Homo sapiens: one gene and its partner. The protein of the gene in region 1 interacts with the protein of each later gene in a biochemical or structural test. Each region holds a gene or a part of one and is shown on either strand. Other genes may lie near its edges.

Region 1 (7,759 bases):
ATGTTTCCAGGTGATTTTGATACTGCTGGTCCAGGACTACCCTTTAGGAACCACTTTATCTACATGAGACTTTGAGACTATATAATGTTTTGAAAAGCAAGAATGGTACAAAAGCAGAAGACCCAAAGATAATCGTTCTCTACTTTGGGGACTTGCTGGGCATCAGGCCTACAGACAGGATAGCTCCTGATCCCACCCAAGGGTCAGACGCTCCAGGCTGGGACATTCTCAGGTATGGCTGGGAAGCATAGGTCTTTCTTTCCTCCCTCTATCACAGGTCTTTAAAGAAAACAAAATTAAATTAAGTTGCCTCCCACTTCATCCCCCAAATACCTTCCCCAACCAGTTAAAGGAATTATGATATTCTTAAAATACTGTGTTGCTGTAAAAAAGCATCCTTACATACTGACATGGAAAGATCTCGTTACGTGATGACAATAAGGTACAGAACAGAGTGTATTTACTGCCATTTGTATAGATTTTGTGGGGAAATATATTTACAAATTTGCTTGCATATGCGTAAGGACTTCTGGAAGGAAGCCCATGTTGGTTGCCTCTGGGTGGGGAGGAGAACTAGGAGGCTAGGGGCAGAAGTAGGAGGGAAACTTTCCTTATATACTTTCTAAGCTTTTTGAATTTTGAAGCATGGGAATGTATTATGTATCTGATCATTTAAATCGTTAAAATTAAAACATACAAAACAACTAAAAAAACTTTTTCACACATTGTGACCACATTGCCTGAAATTCTGTTATAACCTATTCCTGAGAGCTCACAAGGGAACATCCCTGGGAGGGTTTTGATGAGTGAGACTCTCAGCCATTCACACTTTGAAGGTAATGAGCTCAATCAGAGAGCTTTTCTAACACTTAGCCATAGAAATTGGAGCCATGGGGTACTTCTGGTGAGGAAGTCTGGGATCATGGTGTTACAAGAAAGGACAGCAACTCTAGCTAGGGCCCGGGGGAGACCAAGGACTCTGAGATGTTAGAGAAGGGCATAGAAAGAGATGTGGTTGGGCCAAACCCAGAAGAAATGTCCTTTTTATATTTGGCTCACAGTCTGCCATAGGCCAAGCACAGCTGTCACTTCCCTCTTGTCAGGACTTTCCACACATGTACCCTGGGAGGCCAGGGAAATGAAGAATGGAGAGCAGAGGATTAGGGCTACTTGGTAATGCTGGAATGATCTACTATGCAAGGGAAACATTTTGTCCTCTGTGTTCACATCTGGGGACGATGTAGAGGAAATTGTGATCAAGGAGAAAGGAAGCTCTGGCATATGCCTAGAAGTTGTTTAAGAGGGGGAAGTAGAAAAGACTTGGTTTACTTCTCTCTTATATTCCTCTTGCTCTTCTTTCAGGGTCATCTCTATGAACACCTGCTGCAGCTTCTCATTGCAGTAGTTGATCACAAATTGCTCAAAGCTATTATCCTGAGAGAGGGAGCACAGGTTAGAGAGCTCACTCCAAGACTGTTTCTCCGTCTCAGTCCTACCTCCCCTCCCTCACATCCCCCCTGTGAGCCTGTCCACCTCTAATCCTAGGGGAGCAGGGTGCTGAGGTGAGGCACTCTCACCTCTAATATCTCAAAACCGTAGATATCAAGGACTCCCATTACCTTCTTCTTTTCCCCGATGCCCACCTGAAGAGGAGAGAAAGATAAATCTGAGGACAGGCCCCCTCTGCACACCAGGCCAGGTCCTTCTGGAGCGGATGGGGTTGGAGTAGGGGGCAAACAGAACTAGCAAGAGCTTTGCCAAACTGGAAAGGAATTGTTGTGATTTTACTCTCCCTCCTCCACACACTAGAGAACAAGCAAAGAGGGAGGAAAGGAGGAAAAGGAAGATACAGATAGATTCCAGGATGGTGCTCCGATGGTACCAGGTAGAAAGACAATAAAACCTCTCAGGACAATAACCATCTCTTATATTTGTAGAGCATTTTACAAAAGATTCCATGTCTTTATTTATCATAACCTTATAAGGTATTATTGTTCCCATTTTACAGATAACAAAGTCAAATTTCAGAAGGATAGGTACTTACCAAGCCTAGACTCAAATTCCTTCTTATTCTACTACCTTTCAGTAATAGCTTCTAAATAGATGGCACTTCCATGTGGATAATTTGTTAATAACAGCTTTACTGAATATAATTCACATACCATGTACAATTCAGTGGCTTTTTAGTATATTCAAAAGGTTGTACAACCATCACCACTATCTAATTTCAGAACATTTTCACCACCCCACAAAAGAAATCCTATACCCATTATTAGTCACTCCCCATACCCCTCTCCCCCCAGCCCTTGGCATTCATTGATCTACTTCCCATCTCTATGAATTTGCCTATTGTGGACATTTCATATGAATGGAATCAAACAAAATGTGGTCTTTTGTGACTACCTTCTTTCACTCAGCATAATGTTTTCCAGGCTCATCAATCTTGAAGCATGTATCAGTACTTCATTCTTTTTATGGACAAATAACATTCTTTTGTACAGATATACCACATTTTGTTTATCTCTTCATCAGTTGATGGACATTTGGGCTGTTTCTACTTTTTGGCTATTACAAATAAGGCTTCTGTGAACATTTGTGCACAAATTTTAGTGAGGACATCTAATTTCAGTTCTCTTGGGTATATACCTAGGAGTGGGAATTGTGGTATCATATGGTAACTATTTACATAATTTATCTGATCCTTATTAAACCCTGTGAAGCAGGTAGGAATGCATTAGTGTTTCTTAAATAGTTTTTTATTTAACTTATTTTTTTTCATAAAATATAGAGTTGGGGTCTCACTATATTGCCCAGACTGGTCTTGAACTACTGAGCTCAAGTGATCCTCCCACCTCAGCCTCCCAAAGTCCTGGGATTACAGGCATGGACCACCACACCCAGCATATTAGTGTTTCTTAGTGGGCATTTCCAAATCAGGACACTGAGGCCCAGAACCTTTGTGAAATTGAAAGTCCACATGACTTTTTACTTAATTGAAAGTCCACATGACTTTGAATTAAGTAAGTAGATGATATATCCAGATTGTCTAACTCAAAAGCCAGTGATGTTTCCATGACAACACACTGTTAGAAGGAACTGTACCCTCCCCATCATCCTCCCTACTCTGCTCATCTCAGAAACCAAGATATAGGGCTGGTGACAGGGCAGGAAGGTGAGGCAGACAGGAGAGCATGGAGAAAGCAGAGCGGCCACTTGCCTTGATGCTCTCATTGATTCGATTCACTATCCAGTCAAAGAGGCGGCTGTAGATGTTCTTAGCCAGGGCGTCCCGAGCATACTGAGCCTGTGGGTGAGGCACAGCTGATTAGGGTGGCATCACAGAACAGGGTCGAAACAGCCCCCTCCACTCCAGTGAGCTCCTTACCTGCATAACATTCAGTGCAGTGACCACCTTTTCCTTGGCTGTTTCCATGGTCCTCGAGCACAAAGCTCTCTCTACTTCTTCTGAATTCAAGCCCACCATCTCCCCAATCTCCCGAACACCTGGGATAATGAGAAAGTACAGCATGTCCTTAGAGGCAGCTTTCTCTCAGGGGAGGGAGTGCAATCTGATAAGTGAAACTGCCTGAGACACTGGTGTCCTGGGGTCTCACTGGAGAAGTCATTGCAGCCAACCCAGAACATGGCCCTGGAGGAATCTCAGGGAGTTGGGGGACAGAAGAAAGGGGATCTGGGCATTTTGCATGTATCATCTACTTTAATATGAGAATCTCCTGAATTAGGTGTGATTATCCCCATTCTGCAGAAGAATCAACTCAGACTCAGAGAATTTCCAGACCTAGATATATCAAATTTCAAAAGCTCATTCCAATATGCTTCATCGGGAGTTCTCAGTGAGTCTGTTTAGGGGAGAACTCAGGAGTGGGCTGAGTGGGACTGCATCAGGGTGAGATCAATTATGCTAGAGATGGTAGAAGGACACGACTTGTAGTAGGAAATTCAGGGTCTGGGTAGGAGCTCCAGCAGGCTGGGATGCAGACCTCTCCCATCACGGATGCCACTTGCTGGTATCCCACTGGCCTGGAACTCATCAGCCACCAACACGTTCCCCAGCTTTAGCACCATGGATGTCACCTCTAGCACTTGTCGAATCTCCTCCTCCGAGAACCCAATCACTGCCATTGCACTCTTAGGCAGAAAGCAGAAATCAAAAGCTGAACTGTTGGTGCCAGTCCAATGCGAATAGAGGATGACCTAAGGGCCCAAGCCTGCCTCACCCTGGGCACCCACCTGTACAGCCCTGAAGCTGGAGGCGTCGTCCATGCCATCCACTCTGGATACTTCATGATTCAGATAGGCATAGCCAGTTGTATCCCGCTCAAGCTTCAGGGCCTCTGGGAGGGCCAGTGTTGGGGAAGATGGTTAGTACCCAGGCTCTCTGGAGCCCTCCAGCCTTGACACCTCACAGCCCTTGCCCTAATGGATTCATTCACTTATCCAAAGGAGTCATTTTTGTTTTGGGTTCTTCCCCTGCCTCCTTTGTTTTGGGATCATTAATTCCTGTGATGATAGACTAATTTTTGTTGTTGTTGAGACAGGGTCTCACTCTGTCACACAGGCTGGAGGGCAGTGGTGCGATCTCAGCTCACTGCAAGCACCACCTCCCAGGTTCAAGTGATTCTCATGCCTCAGCCTCCTGTGTAGCTGGGACTATGGGTGCATGCCACCACGCCTGGCTAATTTTGGTATTTTTAGTAGAGATGGGGTTTCTCTATGTTGGCCAGGCTGGTCTTGACTCCTGCACTCAAGCAATCCACCCGCCTCGGCCTCTCAAAGTGCTGGGATTACAGGCATGAGTCACTCGGCCTAACAGACTAAATTTTTAAGTATACTTTTAAGTAGTGTTTAGGGTTTTGATGCTCATATTGATTGGGTTTTCCCCCAACTTTTATGAAACAAAACCCTCATTTTACTCTTCTCCCTACCCTCAGGGTTCTAAACAATAAAAATAAACAAGCAACCCTTCCATCCTACGCAGGTGCCTCTGGACGGTGAAGGTAAGGGGAGAAGGGTAAGCGCATATCTCCTGCCTGCCCCCAGCCTCAACTCTTGGCGTGGGTTGCTCATTCATTGTTTGAACACCAAACACCAATAAAGTGGCAGGTAGCATGTTCCCTGACCCTGACACCTCTTCTGAAAAGTTTTCTCTGATGCTGAGGGCCTGAGCCAAATGGCTGTCTTGCATTCCCCACTGGTGAATCTATATCCCAGCCCATATCATATGGGCTAGGTTTTGTTTTTTTCTGTCTCTCCCATAAATGAGCAACTTGTGGGTTGGGACTGTGTTTCTCATCTCCATATTCTGTGTGCCTTTCTGGCATGCAGGAAATTTTCTCTTTTTAATAAATGAATCAAGTGAATGATCAAAGCTGTTTCCCTAGGATGGGAGGGATTCGGTTAATCATGGAGTTTGAGGGATGTCAATTATCTGGTATGCAAATGATCTGAGAATCAGGGAGTATCCCTCAAACTATAGTCTAATGGCAGCTCCCCCAGCACACAAAGTTTGAAACAAGGGCCTGCTAAGGAGGGTATCTGGAGGGAGAATGAGTCAGAATGTCTGGGGATGATGATACCTGGGAGACCTCATCTAGAGTTGATTTAAACCAATAGATGACAGACCAACCAGAACAAGACACTAATGCCCATGATGCAGACAAGTTGAACATAACCAAAACTATTAAGCCAGGAAAGAGCATGAGATCTGCAGGGGTTCCTGAAGATCACAGAGATCTCCAAGAGTGGAAAAGGAGATAGCACAGGTCTATCATAGAATCACCAGAAACCAAAGAGACATTCTTAGGGGCCAGACACCCACGGTGCTCACAGCCAGAGAGGAGATTGGGAGGCAAACTCCAGTAGGGCTTAAAGTCCACCAGACACTCCAGTGATGCCCACCCAGAGCCACTTCAGGCCAGTCCAGCATCCAGGCTGTGATGGACCCTTCCCCAGGCCAAGCCAAGGGGCTCTAGGTCTTCTGCTCTTATAGCCAGCTGCACAGGCCTGATGGCCCCGATCACACAATATTACAATGGATCTGCTCACACACCTCTTATCCCTAGAAGACTATAAGTTCTTCGAGGACAGGGTCATGTCTTACTCAACTCTGTATCCCTAGAGGCTAGCATAATATTTGATCATAGGTGTTCAAGAGATGTTGAATGAATGAATAAATGAATGAGTGAATGAATGAATGAAAAGAAAATCAGGAACAGGGTCCTAGGTAAGGCAGATGTAGACCCAGGACAGCTTCAACTAGAGTTCACTGAAAGTTCCTGAACACTTACAACATTCTGCCTGCTTCCCTGCTTTAATTAAATCCCCTTAAGTTGAAGGTAGGAAGGAAAGTAGATGGATATAAGTGTTTTATATTTGAAGCCAGCTCAGGGAAAGCAGAACCCAGGCAGGAAAGAGGAACGAGAACAGTGAAGAGGCAAGAAGGCATATCCCTGGCAATAAAACCCCAGAAAAGGAAGAGAACACAGGGGTAAAGGAATTTGTTCCCAACAATGAGTGGGTGAGGCTGAGAATGGGAAATGCAGCAAGGAAAATCTGGGAGGCTCAAGGGAAGAGGGCTGTAGGGGCCCAGAGGGAACAGGGGTTCTGGGACTGAATGGAGGTTGGGGACTTTGCCATGTGTCACTCATGAGGACACTTTCCCCATGCAGGCACATACTCAGCAGCTGTTCATCTGCTCCAGCCAGCAGCTGATAGAAGATGTGGAAGTTCCTTTCTCCTTTGAGCTGCTTCACTAATCGGGATTTCTCAAGCAGATCTGGCAGAGAATTAGAAAAATAATATCCTGAGGGCCTGGGAGATGCCGTAGCTTCTCCAGCCCTACTGGAGAATGCCCCCATCGCCGGCATTCCTAGTGGTTGGGAAGTCTCCTTGACGTCTAACATTCTGCCTTTCTACAGGAACAGATTAGCAGAAAGGGCCATGGGAGGCAGGTGGAAGACAGGTGAGTGGAATTGGGGAGACACGTACAGTTTGTGATGACACCACCGAGGGGGGATCCCTTGAAGTCAAATTCAATATCCATGTATTTTCCCTTCAGAGAGAGACCAGAGAGAGAGACTTAGCTTCTTCCTCTTCTCACCACCCTGCCTGGAAGGGGTCTGTGCCACATTCCTCCCTCTTAAGCCCCCACATCCTCTCTTCCCAGGTGGGGAGACATTTACTCACAAATCGGGAGGAATTGTTGTTGCGAATGGTCTTGGCATTGCCAAAAGCTACAGAGATGAGGAGGGGAGAAGTGAAACTCTAGAGAAGGGAAAGGAGGAAGGGCTTCCAGTCCTCATGACAATCTCAGATTTTTCTGGGTCGAACAAGAGAGGTGATTTTGCAGCACTGGGGAAGAGGGTCTAGGGCTCAGTGATTCTGGGGGTTAGATGGAGGGTGGAGAGGGCAGAGAGCAGAATTCTCACCCTCCAGCACTGGGTTAGACTGTAGCAGCTGCTCCTTCACAGAGTTCACCTGCTCTCCTTTCCCACAGACGGCAGCCACATAAGACATCACCAGCTTGCTGGCCTCTGTGCAGGCAAAACGCTCTCATGGGTCCCCACCCAGGACTAGCCCATCCCCCCACCTCCTTAACTTGCTTCACCCCAGTGCCTCACCACCCCTTGGAGTCAGAAAAAGTGGAAAGGAAGTTCTGTGGGGTGGAGGGTCAGGTCTAGGTCTGGCTTGCAAAGAGACAAGGAAGCAGTTCCAGAGGTGACTCCATGTGTTCCCCCAG
Region 2 (7,759 bases), on another chromosome or scaffold:
GTCTCGAACTCCTGACCTCAGGTGATCCACCCACCTCACCCTCCCAAAGTGCTGGGATTACAGGGGTGAGCCACTGTGCCTGGCCCATTTTTTAGTTTATTTTTATATTTTATTTTGTTCTATTCTATTTTTTTGTTTTATTTTATTTTATTTGAGATAGCATCTCACTCTGTCGCCCAGGTTGGAGTGCAGCGGCACAATCTTGGCCCACTGCAACCTCTGCCTCCTGAGTTCAAGCAATTCTCCTGCCTCAGCCTCCTGAGTAGCTGGGACTACAGGTGTGCCCCACCACACCGGCTAGTTTTTGTATTTTTGGTAGTGACAGGGTTTCACCACGTTGGCCAGGCTGGCCTTGAACTCTTGACTTTAAGTGATCCGCCTGCCTCGGCCTCCCGAAGTGCTAGGATTACTGGCATGAGCCACCATACCCAGCCCATTTTCATTTTTAGAGACAGGGTCTCACTCTGTCGCCCAGGCTGGAGTCCAGTGATGCAATCATTGTAACCTTGAACTCCTGGGCTCAAGTGATTCTCCCACTTCAGCCTCCTAAGTAGCTGGGACCACAGGCAGACACCACTGCATTTGGCTAAACTCTTAAATTTGTTGTAGAGATGGCGGTGGAGGGGGGTTCTATTTTGCCCAGGCTGGTCTGAAACACCTGACCTCAAGCAATCCTCCTGCCTCAGCCTCCCCAAGTGCTGGAATTACAGGTGTGAGCCACTGCACCCCGCCTGAGGCATCCTTTCGAGACTGGAAACTGAGGCCCAGAGTGGGCCTATCACATGACTGACTTCTAGCATTGAAGTTCCAGCCTGCCACGCATCAGCTGGAAGATCTGTGCAAAAGCGAGCCAGCTTCTCCGGGTCTCAGTTTTCTCATCTGCGGAAAGGGTATGTTGATAACAAGCACCTGTCTGCTGGGGTGTTGGCAGAGTGAGTGAGTTTGTGAATGGAAGATGAGCATAAGCACAGTACCCGGCCTATAGTATAGTTAATGCCAAATATCCTGTCCCCAAAAGCCTTCAGACATCAGGGTGCCCTCCTGGCCTCTATGACCTCTGCGCAGTGAGGACAGGGCGGTACCTGCAGCCCAATGATGTTCCGCCCTTCTCTTAGCTTCCCCGGCTCGAATTTCCGCTCCTGCTTCTCTGCGTACTTCACTCCCACGTTCACCTTGTTTCCTTTCGTCTTCGCCTAGGTGGGGCAGGGAAAGCAGGGACTGACAAGGGGGCCTCCAGGCTGCACAGTCCCCTTGGACACTGTTTTTTTGTTGTTGTTGACACAGAGTCTCGCTCTGTTGCCCAGGCTGGAGTGCAGTGGCGTGATCTCAGCTCACTGCAAGCTCCGCCTCCCGGCTTCACACCATTCTCCTGCATCAGTCTCCCTAGTAGCTGGGACTACAAGCGCCTGCCACCATGCCCGGCTAATTTTGTTTTGTAGTTTTAGTAGAGACAGGGTTTCACCATGTTAGCCAGGATGGTCTCAATCTCCTGACCTTGTGATCCACCTGTCTCGGCCTCCCAAAGTGCTGGGATTACAGGCGTGAGCCACCGTGCCCGGCCAACACTGTTTTTTGTTTTTTGTTTTTTTTTTTTTGAGACGGAGTCTTGGCTCTGTCACCCAGGCTGGGCAGTGGCACGATCTCGGCTCACTGCAGACTCCGCCTCCCGGGTTCAAGCGATTCTCCTGCCTCAGCCTCCTGAGTAGCTGGGATTACAGGCATGCGTCACCACGTCCAGCTAATTTTTGTATTTTTAGTAGAGACGGGATTTCACCATGTTGGCCAGACTGGTCTCAAACTCCCGGCCTCAAGCAATCCGCTCACCTTGGCCTCCCAAAGTGCTGGGATTACAGGTGTGAGCGACCGCGCCCGGCCCCCTTGGACGCTGTTGACAGCACCTGCTCCCCGATCCCTGCCCCCCGCTCCGCCACCTTCACTGGGCTCAGGAGCACAAGTGGCCACACCTGCATCCCAGCCCAGGCTGCCCACCACCCCCTGCCCAGCCTGCAACCACACTCACCATGCTGGCCAAAGCCAGGAGGGTGGACTGCACCTGTGTATGGTTGGTGTTCTCAAACAGGTCGTTGGCCTCAAAAATGTCGTGGGGCTTCACCCCATACTTGGTGATGGCCTTGATGAAGTTGCCGATGTTCTCCAGCTAGAGGGGGGCAGGTGGTGGTCACTGGGTGGGGAGGGGAGGTCTGAGGGGCTTGCGGGCAAGGATGGAAGAGATTGTGTCTGGGCTCACCTGGTGCCAATTTTGGGTTGACTCATTGATCTTCTTCACGGAGCCTGGCTGCAGCTTATTGATGAATCTGAGAAGAGTGGGGAAGGGGTAAGAAAGGTGTCCCCCCAGGGTTGGGCACGGTGGCTCACGCCTGTAATCCCAGCACTTTGGGAGGCCAAGGCGGGTGGATCACGAGGTCAGGAGAGCGAGACTATCCTGGCCAACATGGTGAAACCCCATCTCTACTAAAAATACAAAAATTAGCCAGGCGTGGTGGCACATGCCTGTACTCCCAGCTACTCAGGAGGCTGAGGCAATCACTTGAACCCAGGAGGCGGAGGTTGCAGTGAGCTGAGATTGCAGCACTGCATTCCAGCTTGGGGACAGAGCGAGACTCCGTCTCAAAAAAAAAAAAAAAAGAAAGAAAGGTGTCCCCCACTCCCGCTCTCCAGCCCAGCCCAGCAGGAGGAGGGTGACGGGATGACCACAAGGGGCCATGCCATACCCTAGCGTCACTTCTCCCTGCAGTCAGCTCTCAGCTGCAGCCCCTCCAAACCACCCAAGCACACACACAAATGGGACACTGATGCCAAGGAGCTAGACTCAGGTCCCAGTCAGAAAGCCTGCTTATCCAAGGTGTGTCCGAGTCTCTGGGATCTCCGAAGCCTCACTGGCAGGCGTGTCTCAGCATCCTTTTCTCTTGTAGACAGCAGGAAGCCCACAAGGGCCTCTTCTCTGACTCACTCCTTTAATGATCTCGCCTCTTTTTTCTTTTCTTTTCTTTTTTTTTTCTTTTTGATGCAGGGTGTGGCTTTGTCGCCCAGGCTGGAGAGCAGTGGTGCAATCACAGCTCACTGCAGCCTCAACTTCCCAGGCTCCAGCGATCCTCCCACCTCAGCCTTCCGAGTAGCTGGGATCACAGGTGCGCACCACCATGCCTGGCTTTTTTTTTTTTTTTTTTTTTGGTAGAGAGGGGGTTTCACTGTATTTGTATTGCCCAAGCTGGTCTTGAACTCCTGGGCTCAAGCGATCCTCCTGCCTCAGCCTCCCAAAGCGCTGGGATTACAGGCATGAGTGACAGCACCTGGCCTCATTCAGTGTCTTGACTTTAAGTGCCTCCATATGCCAGCAACTCCCTCATCTCCCTGCAGCTTGGGTTTCTTACCATCTCATTCAGCTCTCTCCATGGGTGCCTGGGTGTCTCAAATCAAACTCACCCTGCTCCAGACTCCTGACATGCAGCTTCCCCCTCCAGACTCCCCCCTCCCTCCACCTTCCCTGCCTAGCAGTGCCCCCTTCTAGGTGCTCAGCCAGAGCCCTTGGACTTGCCCCCAACTCCCCCTTTCTCCTTCTCTCAGCCTCATGTCCAGTCCCTCCAAAGTTCTTTGGCTCTGCCTTTTAATGAGTCCAGAAAACCACCCACTGCTCCCCGCCACCTCCACCTGGGTCTCAGCCACCAGAGTCTGTTTCCTGGCCTCTTGTAATGAGCTCCCAACTTCCACTTCATCCCCTACAGACCCACCCTTCTTCATCCAGCAGCCAGAATTTTTTTTTTTTTTTCCGAGATGGAGTCTTGCTCTGTCACTCAGGCTGGAAGGCAGTGGCGGGATCTCGGCTCACTGCAACCTCTGTCTCCTGGGTTCAAGCAATTCTCCTGCCTCAGCCTCCTAAGTAGTTGGGATTACAGGTGCCTGCTACCATGCCCAGCTAAATTTTGTGTATTTTTAGTAGAGACGCGGTTTCACCATGTTGGTCAGGTTGGTTTCGAACTCCTGACCTCAAGTGATATGCCCACCTCAGCCTCCCAAAGTGCTGGGATTACAGGCATGAGCCACTGCCCCTGGCCCAGAATGGCCTTTTTTAAACAGTTCAAGTTACCGTCCAGTTCCAAATCCTCCAGGAGCCTCCCATTGCCTTCAGAATGAAATCCTAAGTCCTCTGCCTAAAATGCCCTCTGTAGAACTGGGCACAGTGGCTCACACCTGTAATCCCAGTGCTTTGGGAAGCCGAGACAGGAGGATGGCTTGAGCCTAGGAGTTTCAGATCAGCCTGGGCAACATGGTGAGACCCGTGTCTCTACAAAAAAAAAAAAAAAAAAAACCCGAAAACTTCACCGGGCGTGGTGATGTGTGCCTGTAGTTCCAGCTACTGAGGAGGCTGGGGCTGAAGAGGCTGGGGTGGGAGGATCAGTTGAGCCTAGGAAGTCGAGGCTGTAGTGAGCTATGATTGCACCGCTGTACTCCAGCCCGGGCACCAGAGCAAGACTCTGTCTCTAAATAAATAAATGAAATAAAATGCCCTCCACCATCTGACTCTCAGTTCACTCTGCGACTTCATCTCCACTTCTGCTCAATCATTTGGTGCTCGTCACGCCAGCCTCCTTCTTGTTTCTTGAACACCCCAAGCACGATCCTACCTCACGCCTTTGCACTGGTGGCCCCCTCTGCTTTGCCTCAGGTCCCCTGAGCCCTCCCTCACTTCATCTAAGGTTCTGTTCAAATGTCACCTCTTCAGAGAGGCCTCCCAGACCACTCTCTAGGAAACTGCAGACTCTCCACCCGCAGACATATACCTGACCCTCCCATCTTCCCTTCCGCTTGAGTTTTCCCCAGGACACTTACGACCACAAATCTGTGATTATTTGATCAATTATATGATTGATCTCCTCAACTGGACTAAAAGTCCTTGAGCTCTGAGTCGAGTCTGTTCTGTTCACTGTTCCCAGTGCCTAGGCCAGAGCCTGGCACACAGCAGGAACTCATAAATGCTTCTTTTGTGAATGAATGAATGAATGAATGAGTGAATGACCGGAGTGCGTGGGTGACTGCACTACACTCTTTTTTTTTTTCTTATACTTTAACTTCTGGGGTACATGTGCACTATGTGCAGGTTTGATACATAGGTATACATGTGCCATTTTGGTTTGCTGCACCCATCAACTCGTCATTTACATTAGGTCTTTTTTTTTTTTTTTTTTTTTGAGACGGAGTCTCGCTCTGTCACCCAAGCTGGAGTGCAGTGGTGGGATCTCGGCTCACTGCAAGCTCCGCCTCCCGGGTTCACGCTATTCTCCTGCCTCAGCCTCCCGAGTAGCTGGGACTACAAGCGCCTGCCACCACGCCCGGCTAATTTTTTGTATTTTTTTTAGTAGAGACAGGGTTTCACCGTGTTAGCCAGGATGGTCTTGATCTCCTGACCTCGTGATCCGCCTGCCTCAGCCTCCCAAAGTGCTGGGATTACAGACGTGAGTCACCGCGCCCGGCCCACTCTTTTATTATTATTATTATTATTATTATTATACTTTAAGTTCTAGGGTACACATGCACAACGTGCAGGTTTGATACATAGGTATACATGTGCCATGTTGGTTTGCTGCACCCATCAACTTGTCGTTTACATTAGTTTTTTTTTTTTTGAGACAGGGTTTCACTGTTGCCCAGGCTGGAGTGCAGTGGCGCGATCATAGCTCACTGCAGCCTTGACCTCCAGGGCTCAAGCGATCCTCCCACCTCAGCCTTCCGAGTAGCTGGGACCACAGGCGCATGCCACCATGCCAAGCTAATTAAAACAAAAATGTTTTGTAGAGATGGAATCTGGCTATGTTGCCCAGGCTGGGACTGCACTGTTTGACGTCTGAGCAGTCCTCTGCCTGAGCTGGGACACCAGCATGCCTACCTCCCCACCTGCCAATTCCTTGTTCCTAGTGGATGGGAATGGAACAAGGTAAACACCCCCCACACCCCTTCTTCCCAGCATCTAGGACTTGATGAAGCTGCACCTTCAAAGTCTTCCCGAGGCCACTCACAGTCACTCTGCCCTGGGTCAGACTCAAATGCAGATCGGGCGCAGGCTGGGTTTAGGGCCCTGCTATGCATTAAGATTGCAGTGGAGCCGGGCGCGGTGGCTCACGCCTATAATCCCAGCACTTTGGGAGGCCGAGGTGGGTGGATCACAAGGTCAGGGGTTCGAGACCAGCCTGACCAACATGGTGAAACCCCGTCTCTACTAAAAATACAAAAATTAGCTGGGCGTGGTGGCGGGCACCTGTAATCCCAGCTACTCAGGAGGCTGAGGCAGGAGAATTGCTTGAACCTGGGAGGCAGAGCTTGCAGTGAGCCAAGATCATGCCACTGCACTCCAGCCTGGGTCACAAAGCAAGATTCCATCTGAAAAAAAAAAAAAAGATTGCAGTGGAACTGGGGCTTGGGAGCTGTTAGGGTTTTCACCTCCCTCAGCAATGAGGTTTTGAGGCGAGGAGAAAACCAGGGCCGGCAGGGTGCAGTGGTTCATGCCTGTAATGCCAGCACTTTGTGAGACTAAGGCGGGTGGATCACTTGAGGTCAGGAGTTCGAGACCAGCCAGGCCAACATGGCAAAATCCCGTCTCTACTAAAAATACAAAAGTTATCCGGGCAAGGTGGTGGGCACCTGTAATCCCAGCTGCTCAGGAGGCTGAGACACAAGAATCACTTGAACCCGGAAAGCAGAGGTTGCAGTGAGCTGAGATCATGTCACTGCACTCCAGCCCGGGTGACAGAGGAAGACTCCATCTCAAAAAAAAGAAGAAGAAGAAGAAGGTCGGGCGAGGTGGCTCATGCCTGTAATCCCAGCAATTTGGGAGGCCGAGGCAGGTGGATCACTTGAGGTCAGGAGTTTGAGACCAGCCCGGTCAACATGGTGAAACACTGTCTCTACTAAAAAAAAAAAAAAAAAATACAAAAATTAGCCAGGCGTGGTGGCATGTGCCTGCAATCCCAGCACTTTGGGAGGCCAAGGCAGGTGGATCACTTGAAGTCAGGAGTTCAAGACCAGCCTAGTCAACATGGTGAAACTCCATCTCTACTGAAAAAAAAAAAAAAAAAACAAAAATTAACCGGGCATGGTGGCACGTGCCTGTAATCCCAGCACTTTGGGAGGCTGAGGTAGGTGGATCAATTGAGGTCAGGAGTTCGTAACCATCCTGGCCAACATGGTGAAACCCCATCTCTACTTTAAAAAAATACAAAAATTAGCCAGGCATGGTGGTGCGTGCCTGTAATCCCAGCTATTGGGGAGGCTGAGGCAGGAGAATCACTTAAACCCTGGAGGCGGAGGTTGCAGTGAGCCGAGATTGTGTCTCTGCACTGCAGCCTGGGCAACAGAACAAGACTGTATCTCAAAAAAACAAAAAGAAAACAGAAAGAAAACCAGGGCCTCCTTTAATTATTGCTGCACATCTCTCCTCACATCACCAAGCCAGCCATGAACAGCTGTTGGCTGCTGCCTTTTAGCTGTGACCGCTCTTTCTGGGGACTCTGGCGGCCACAGATGGGCCTACCCTATATAGCATGGTGGTTAAGATTCTAGAGTCATTTCCCTTGAAACCACGTGGGACTTGGTGCAATGCATTTCACCTGAGCCTCAGTTTTCTGTGCCTGTTAAATGGGCACAATGATTACTGGCCACCCCAAAGGTATCCAATAGAAAGTGTTCAACTCAGTTCCAGGATCATGGTTGTTTTGGGGGTTGAGGGGCTGCATGGAGTTGGGGGATG

What was found. The genes of interacting proteins can lie anywhere in the genome.
Region 2: the proteins of MYO1A (region 1) and CNN1 form a complex in vitro, tested with the Homo sapiens proteins (one study listed by BioGRID).

Annotation. Positions count from the first base shown.
Region 1 is NC_000012.12:57,039,855-57,047,613, forward strand, and holds part of MYO1A (unconventional myosin-Ia), read right to left. Parts: intron 7,554-7,759; coding exon 7,449-7,553; intron 7,254-7,448; coding exon 7,207-7,253; intron 7,073-7,206; coding exon 7,009-7,072; intron 6,797-7,008; coding exon 6,698-6,796; intron 4,356-6,697; coding exon 4,252-4,355; intron 4,150-4,251; coding exon 4,002-4,149; intron 3,505-4,001; coding exon 3,386-3,504; intron 3,305-3,385; coding exon 3,218-3,304; intron 1,644-3,217; coding exon 1,578-1,643; intron 1,435-1,577; coding exon 1,330-1,434; intron 1-1,329. UniProt on the Homo sapiens protein: Involved in directing the movement of organelles along actin filaments.
Region 2 is NC_000019.10:11,541,231-11,548,989, reverse strand, and holds part of CNN1 (calponin-1), read right to left. Parts: intron 2,316-7,759; coding exon 2,249-2,315; intron 2,159-2,248; coding exon 2,021-2,158; intron 1,194-2,020; coding exon 1,083-1,193; intron 1-1,082. UniProt on the Homo sapiens protein: Thin filament-associated protein that is implicated in the regulation and modulation of smooth muscle contraction. It is capable of binding to actin, calmodulin and tropomyosin. The interaction of calponin with actin inhibits the actomyosin Mg-ATPase activity.